Linked DNA regions of Homo sapiens. The protein of the gene in region 1 purifies or fractionates together with the protein of each later gene. This does not show direct contact. Each region holds a gene or a part of one and is shown in the gene's direction. Other genes may lie near its edges.

Region 1 (3,500 bases):
GTTTCTTTACTTTTACTATTTGTCTTCTGAATGTAACTTTCTTCTTTGATCTATCCTCACATGCTCTCAGTCTACTATAGACTTCATCCGTGTTTAGTAAAGTGTCCCTGGAGTAGTGATTGCAGACGTGGGAAGATGGACCAGAAAGGGGAACACATTTCTTCAGATAAAAATATGGTGCCATAAGAATCTTCAAAAGGAAGCTTGTAAAAGATCTATGGTGTTGCTTTGGAAATGCCAGTGCATAGATGTAGGAATTAAGATGATGGTACTGTGAGATCAGACAGATTGGAGAGGCAGCTGGGGAAGTGTGGGTAGATGGCAGAGGAAATCCCCTATACTCCCCAGAAAGGGGAAGGCCAGTGAGAGGAAGCCTGGAGTTGACACATCAGGCAGGGCTAAGAAAGGGGTACGTGCCAGAAATTTGCAGGGATCGCAAGAAAAGGCAAGAGTAGGAAAAGAAAGGACAGGAAGGGAAAATAGAGAAGACCCTGCAAGAGAAAGGCACTGGCTTGAAAGTCGCAAGTTGCTCAGTGATCAAGACTAGTAACTGTGTGGTGGGAACTTTACTGTGAGAAAAACAACAGGTTTAAATGGCCCCTGATTTACCATGAATTTGAAGGAAATGCCTCAAAGATTTAAAATGTTTAAATTTATTGAAAGCACATTTGAATGAACTTTTAGCTCTCTCAAAGACAGGTAATCAGACAAATGATGTTCAAGAAAGCTATTCTTTAATAGGTATTGTAAAACTAACACCTTTTTTGGCTTTAGGGTAGTTTATTTCTCATCACTGATGTTTATGAAGAGGTGGGGGAGGTGTATAATAAGATGTCTTGCATAATCCATTTCTCAGATTTATGGCTTAATCAGAGTCTCTTTTTCTAAATACATTATGTCTACATTTTTCTTTTTTTTTTTCTTTTTTTTTTTTTTTAGCTGTTAATATCGCTTGCATATATTTCTTTTTTTTTTATTTTATTTTATTTTATTTCTATTTTTTTTTTTTTTATTGATCATTCTTGGGTGTTTCTCGCAGAGGGGGATTTGGCAGGGTCATAGGACAATAGTGGAGGGAAGGTCAGCAGATAAACAAGTGAACAAAGGTCTCTGGTTTTCCTAGGCAGAGGACCCTGCGGCCTTCGGCCTTCCGCAGTGTTTGTGTCCCTGGGTACTTAAGATTAGGGAGTGGTGATGACTCTTAACGAGCATGCTGCCTTCAAGCATCTGTTTAACAAAGCACATCTTGCACCGCCCTTAATCCATTTAACCCTGAGTGGACACAGCACATGTTTCAGAGAGCACAGGGTTGGGGATAAGGTCACAGATCAACAGGATCCCAAGGCAGAAGAATTTTTCTGAGTACAGAACAAAATGAAAAGTCTCCCATGTCTACTTCTATCCACACAGACCCGGCAACCATCCGATTTCTCAATTTTTTCCCCACCCTTCCCGCCTTTCTATTCCACAAAACCGCCATTGTCATCATGGCCCATCCCCAATGAGCCGCTGGGCACACCTCCCAGACGGGGTCGTGGCCGGGCAGAGGGGCTCCTCACTTCCCAGTGGGGGCGGCCGGGCAGAAGCGCCCCTCACCTCCCGGATGGGGCGGCTGGCCGGGCGGGGGGCTGACCCCCCCACCACCCTCCCGGACGGGGCGGCTGGCCAGGCAGAGGGGCTCCTCACTTCCCAGTAGGGGCGGCCGGGCAGAGGCGCCCCTCACCTCCCGGACGGGGCGGCCGGCCGGAAGGGGGGCTGACCCCCCCACCTCCCTCCCGGACGGGGCGGCTGGCCGGGCAGAGGGGCTCCTCACTTCCCAGTAGGGGCGGCCGGGCAGAGGCGCCCCTCACCTCCCGGACGGGGCGGCTGGCCAGGCGGGGGGCTGATCCCCCCACCTCCCTCCCGGACGGGGCGGCTGGCCGGGCGGGGGGCTGACCCCCCCCACCTCCCTCCCGGACGGGGCGGCTGGCCGGGCGGGGGGCTGACCCCCCCCTCCCCCCTCCCGGACGGGGCGGCTGGCCGGGCGGGGGGCTGACCCCCCCACCTCCCTCCCGGGCGGGGCGGCTGGCCGGGCAGAGGGGCTCCTCACTTCCCAGTAGGGGCGGCCGGGCAGAGGCGCCCCTCACCTCCCGGACGGGGCGGCTGGCCAGGCGGGGGGCTGATCCCCCCACCTCCCTCCCGGACTGGGCGGCTGGCCGGGCGGGGGGCTGACCCCCCCACCTCCCTCCTGGACGGGGCGACTGGCCGGGCAGAGGGGCTCCTCACTTCCCAGTAGGGGCGGCCGGGCAGAGGCGCCCCTCACCTCCCGGACGGGGCGGCCAGCCGGGCGGGGGGCTGACCCCCCCACCTCCCTCCCGGACGGGGTGGCTGCCGGGCGGAGACGCTCCTCACTTCCCAGACGGGGTGGTTGCCGGACGGAGGGGCTCCTCACTTCTCAGACGGGGCGGTTGCCAGGCAGAGGGTTTCCTCACTTTTCAGACGGAGCGGCCGGGCAGAGACGCTCCTCACCTCCCAGACAGGGTTGCGGCCCAGCAGAGGCGCTCCTCACATCCCAGACAGGGCGGTGGGGCAGAGGTGCTCCCCACATCTCAGACGATGGGCGGCCGGGCAGAGACGCTCCTCACTTCCTAGATGGGATGGCGGCGGGGAAGAGGCGCTCCTCGCTTCCTAGATGGGATGGCGGCCGGGCAGAGACGCTCCTCACTTTCCAGACTGGGCAGCCAGGCAGAGGGGCTCCTCATATCCCAGACGATGGGTGGCCAAGCAGAGACGCTCCTCACTTCCCAGACGGGGTGGCGGCCGGGCAGAGGCTGCAATCTCGGCTCTTTGGGAGGCCAAGGCAGGCGGCTGGGAGGTGGTTGTAGCGAGCCGAGATCACGCCGCTGCACTCCAGCCTGGGCACCATTGAGCACTGAGTGAACGAGACTCCATCTGCAATCCCGGCACCTCGGGAGGCCGAGGCTGGCGGATCACTCGCGGTTAGGAGCTGGAGACCAGCCCGGCCAACACATCGAAACCCCGTCTCCACCAAAAAAAAACGAAAACCAGTCAGGCGTGGCGGCACGCGCCTGCAATCGCAGGCACTCGGCAGGCTGAGGCAGGAGAATCAGGCAGGGAGGTTGCAGTGAGCTGAGATGGCAGCAGTACCGTCCAGCTTTGGCTCGGCATCAGAGGGAGACCGTGGAGGGAGAGAGAGGGAGAGGGAGAGGGAGAGGGAGAGGGAGAGGGAGAGGGAGAGGGAGAGCTATGTCTACATTTTTCTATGCCATTAAAATAAAGGCAAGCATAATGAGATATTCTAGCTTTATAAGTCTTCTTTCCTCTATTTTTTTCCAGCATGTGGAAATATGGGTAAAAAGCAGTAGTTTTAATATGTAAATGATATTATTATAGTTACCTTTTTTTACATTGTTTAAACAGCTTTTTTGAGGTGTAATATGTAATATGTAAAATTCTTGCATATAAAACAAAATTCAATGACTTTTAGTAGATTTCAGAGT
Region 2 (3,500 bases), on another chromosome or scaffold:
GTAGTGGCCCCGAATGTCAGGCTGCGCTGATATTTATTGGATACAAGACAAAGAGGCAGGGTAAAGAGTGTGAGCCATCTCCAATGATAGGTAAGGTCACGTGGTTCACGTGTCCGCTTGACAGGGGGCCCTTCCCTGCCTGGCAGCCTAGGCAGAGAGAGAGAGAGAGGAGAGAGAGAAACAGCTTACGCCGTTATTTCTGCGTATCAGAGACTTTTAGTACTTTCACTAATTGACTACTGCTATCTAGAAGGCAGAGCCAGGTGTACAGGATGGAACATGAAGGCGGACAAGGAGCGTGACCACTGAAGCACAGCATCACAGGGAGACGGTTAGGCCTCTGGATAACTGCGGGCAGGTCTGACTGATGTCAGGCCCTCCACAAGAGGTGGAGGAGCAGAGTTTTCTCTAAACTCCCCCGGGGAAAGGGAGACTCCCTTTCCCTGTCTGCTAAGTAGCGGGTGTTGTTCCTTCACATTTTTCGCTACCGCTAGACCCTGGTCCGCCTGGCAACGGGCGTCTTCCCAGATGCTGGCGTCACCGCTAGACCAAGGAGCCCTCTGGTGGCCCTGTCCAGGCATAACAGAAGGCTCGCACTCTTGTCTTCTGGTCACACCTCACTATGTCCCCTCAGCTCCTATCTCTGTATGGCCTGGTTTTTCCTAGATTATGATTGTAGAGCGAGGATTGTTATAATATTGGAATAAAGAGTAATTGCTACAAGCTAATGACTAATATTCAAATATAATCATATCTATGATCTATATCTAATATAACTATTCTTGCATATTTTGTTATACTGGAACAGCTCGTGCCCTTGGTCTCTTGCCTTGGCACCTGGGTGGCTTGCTGCCCACAGTTGGGTGTCGTGGCATGCAATTGTAGTCCCAGCTACTTGGGAGGCTGAGGCAGGAGGATCACTTGAGCCAGGAGGTCAAGGCTGCAGTGAGCCACAGTTGCAGCAGTGCACTCGAGCCTGGGCAACAGAGCAAGGCCTTGTCTCAAAAAAAGTAATAAAAAAAATAAAAATAACAGAACCTGCTACCATCAGACTGGGGGCCAATATTTAATGAGAGGAGGGAATGTTTTCTGCCAAAAAGTAGGAAGGACAGATGTCCAGAGAGAGGGCCGCGCTGTCGCCGGGCGTGACGTCCCTGTGTCTGGCGGAGCCCAGGACGGTCTGGGGGCCTGACAGTGCCTCTTGCTGCAGGTGGTGCAGCGGCTGACGCGGATGGTGGGGAAGAACGTGAAGCTGTACGACATGGTGCTGCAGTTTCTGCGCACGCTCTTCCTGCGCACGCGGAATGTGCACTACTGCACGCTGCGGGCTGAGCTGCTCATGTCCCTGCACGACCTGGACGTGGGTGAAATCTGCACCGTGGACCCGTGCCACAAGGTAGCACTGCCCTCCCTCCTTCCCCCCTACCCTCCTGAAGGTAGTGCTGCCCTCCCTCCCTCCTTCCCTCCCACTCCCCGGCCCTCCCTCCTTCCCCCACTGCCCTCCTGAAGGTAGCGCTGCCCTCCCTCCCTCCCTCCTTCTCCCTTCTCCCCCGCTCCCCGGCCCTCCCTCCTCCCCCTCCGCCCTCCTGAAGGTAGCGCTGCCCTCCCTCCCTCCTTCCCCCCAACTCCCCGGCCCTCTCTCCTTCCCCCTCTGCCCCTCCTGAAGGTAGCATTGCCCTCCCTCCTTCCCCCTGGCCCTCCTGGCTCCTCTCCTCTCCGTGGGTTTGGCTTGGCCCGGGACCACCTGGGCGCCCTTCTCTCCCATGCCTGTTTCCTGGGCTCTGGTCTTTCTGTCCTGTGTGCTGGCCCTTTGGCTTCTCTCCAGACCCTGATGGGGGAAGGAGGCTAGTCCCCTGCATCTGAGCCAGAGACCTGGCCGTTCCCGGGGACTCCCTTGCCCCGTCCAGCCCTTTCTGTGTTCCCGAGGGCTGTATGACCTACGGGCTGGACCTTGACCATTGCCCCAGCTTCCTCCCATCTTTCCACCTGGCCTGTGGCCCTCCCCTTCCCCAGAACCCTGGGTGCTGCTTGTTGGCCAGGTACCAAGTGCTCTAGGAACGGGGTTTCCCTTCATACGGACCCTCCAGCCCTGAGACCATCTTTCCGGGACTTGGGAGTCACCCTCCGAGGCTTCCATTGCTTGGAGTGCTGCAGTGGCCACCCCCACACTCAGGGTGCCATGAAGGAGTCCGTTTTTAGAAAGAAACATCATCACTTTCTCCACCACTGTCCTGACCCTGCTGCTTTGGCCGGGAGGTGTGGGGAACACTGCACCGTCAGGATGACTGGTGCCTGCTGCCGCCCCCCGCAGCAGCTATGATTGAACAAGAGGCCAGGGCCTGGAGCTGTGTTTGGGGCCTGGGTCTCTGGTCATCCTGGGAGGTTTGGGCTGGTCCCGACCGTGCTTCCTCCTTGCAGTTCACCTGGTGCCTGGACGCCTGCATCCGAGAGCGGTTCGTGGACAGCAAGAGGGCGCGGGAGCTGCAGGGGTTTCTCGATGGCGTCAAGAAGGGCCAGGAGCAGGTGCTGGGGTGAGGGTCGGCTCCACGAGGCCTCTGCCCCTCAGGGCCCTGCGTGCATCCGGTCTGCGCTTGCTGTGTTTTGCCGTGGGTAGCAGGCGTTTATTCCCGGATATTGCTTTTTCTTTTGTTTTTTTCGAGACAGAGTCTCGTTCTGTAGCCCAGGATGGAGTGCAGTGGTGCAATCTCTGCTCACTGCAACCTCCGCCTCCTAGGCTTAAGCCATTCTCCTGCCTCAGCCTCCCAAGTAGCTGGGATTACAGGCACGCGCCACTGCGCTCAGGTAATTTTTGTATTTTTTAGTAGAGACAGGGTTTCACCATGTTGGCCAGGCTTGTCTTGAACTCCTGACCTCAGGTGATCCACCCGCCTCAGCCTTCCAAAGTGCTGGGATTACAGGCATGCGCCACCGTGCCTGGCCTCCTGGATGTTTCAATAGAGCTATGCCGGGCACTGCTGGCCCACAGCTTAGGGACATGGTTGTCGGGATGTGTGTGGGTAGCAAAGTCTCCCTCCTCAACTCTGCATTCTGGAGCCAGGCCCAGGGGCTGGGGTCTGGTGTCTGCAGTGGCGTGGGGTCAGCCTCTGAGCTGAGGGGCATCCATTGGCATTTGCTTTCCAGCATCCTCTGGCTGGTGTATAGACACAGTGCTGCCTGGCCCTGCCTTTGCCACTTTTTTTCTTCCTTTTTTTTTTTTTTTTTTTTTTTCTGAGACAGGGTCTCTGTCACCCAGGCTTTAGTGCAGTGGTACAGTCTCCCTCAACCTCCTGGGCATTGATCCTGCTGTCTCCGCCTCCCAAAGTGCTGGGATTACAGGCACACACCAGTGCGCCTGGCCGATTTTTGTTATCTTTAGTAGAGATGGGATTTCACCACCTCGCCCGGGCTAGTCTCAAACAAACAATCCACCGGCCTCAGCATCCCAAAGTGCTGGGATGACAGGCGTGAGCCACCACACCCAGCCTTTTTTTTGTTTGTTT

What was found. The genes of interacting proteins can lie anywhere in the genome.
Region 2: the proteins of INTS9 (region 1) and NELFB purify together in Homo sapiens (affinity purification with mass spectrometry; one large-scale study listed by BioGRID and IntAct). This does not show direct contact.

The regions. Positions count from the first base shown.
Region 1 is NC_000008.11:28,879,970-28,883,469, reverse strand, and holds part of INTS9 (integrator complex subunit 9), read left to right. Parts: intron 1-3,500. UniProt on the Homo sapiens protein: Component of the integrator complex, a multiprotein complex that terminates RNA polymerase II (Pol II) transcription in the promoter-proximal region of genes.
Region 2 is NC_000009.12:137,261,827-137,265,326, forward strand, and holds part of NELFB (negative elongation factor B), read left to right. Parts: intron 1-1,210; coding exon 1,211-1,396; intron 1,397-2,418; coding exon 2,419-2,531; intron 2,532-3,500. UniProt on the Homo sapiens protein: Essential component of the NELF complex, a complex that negatively regulates the elongation of transcription by RNA polymerase II.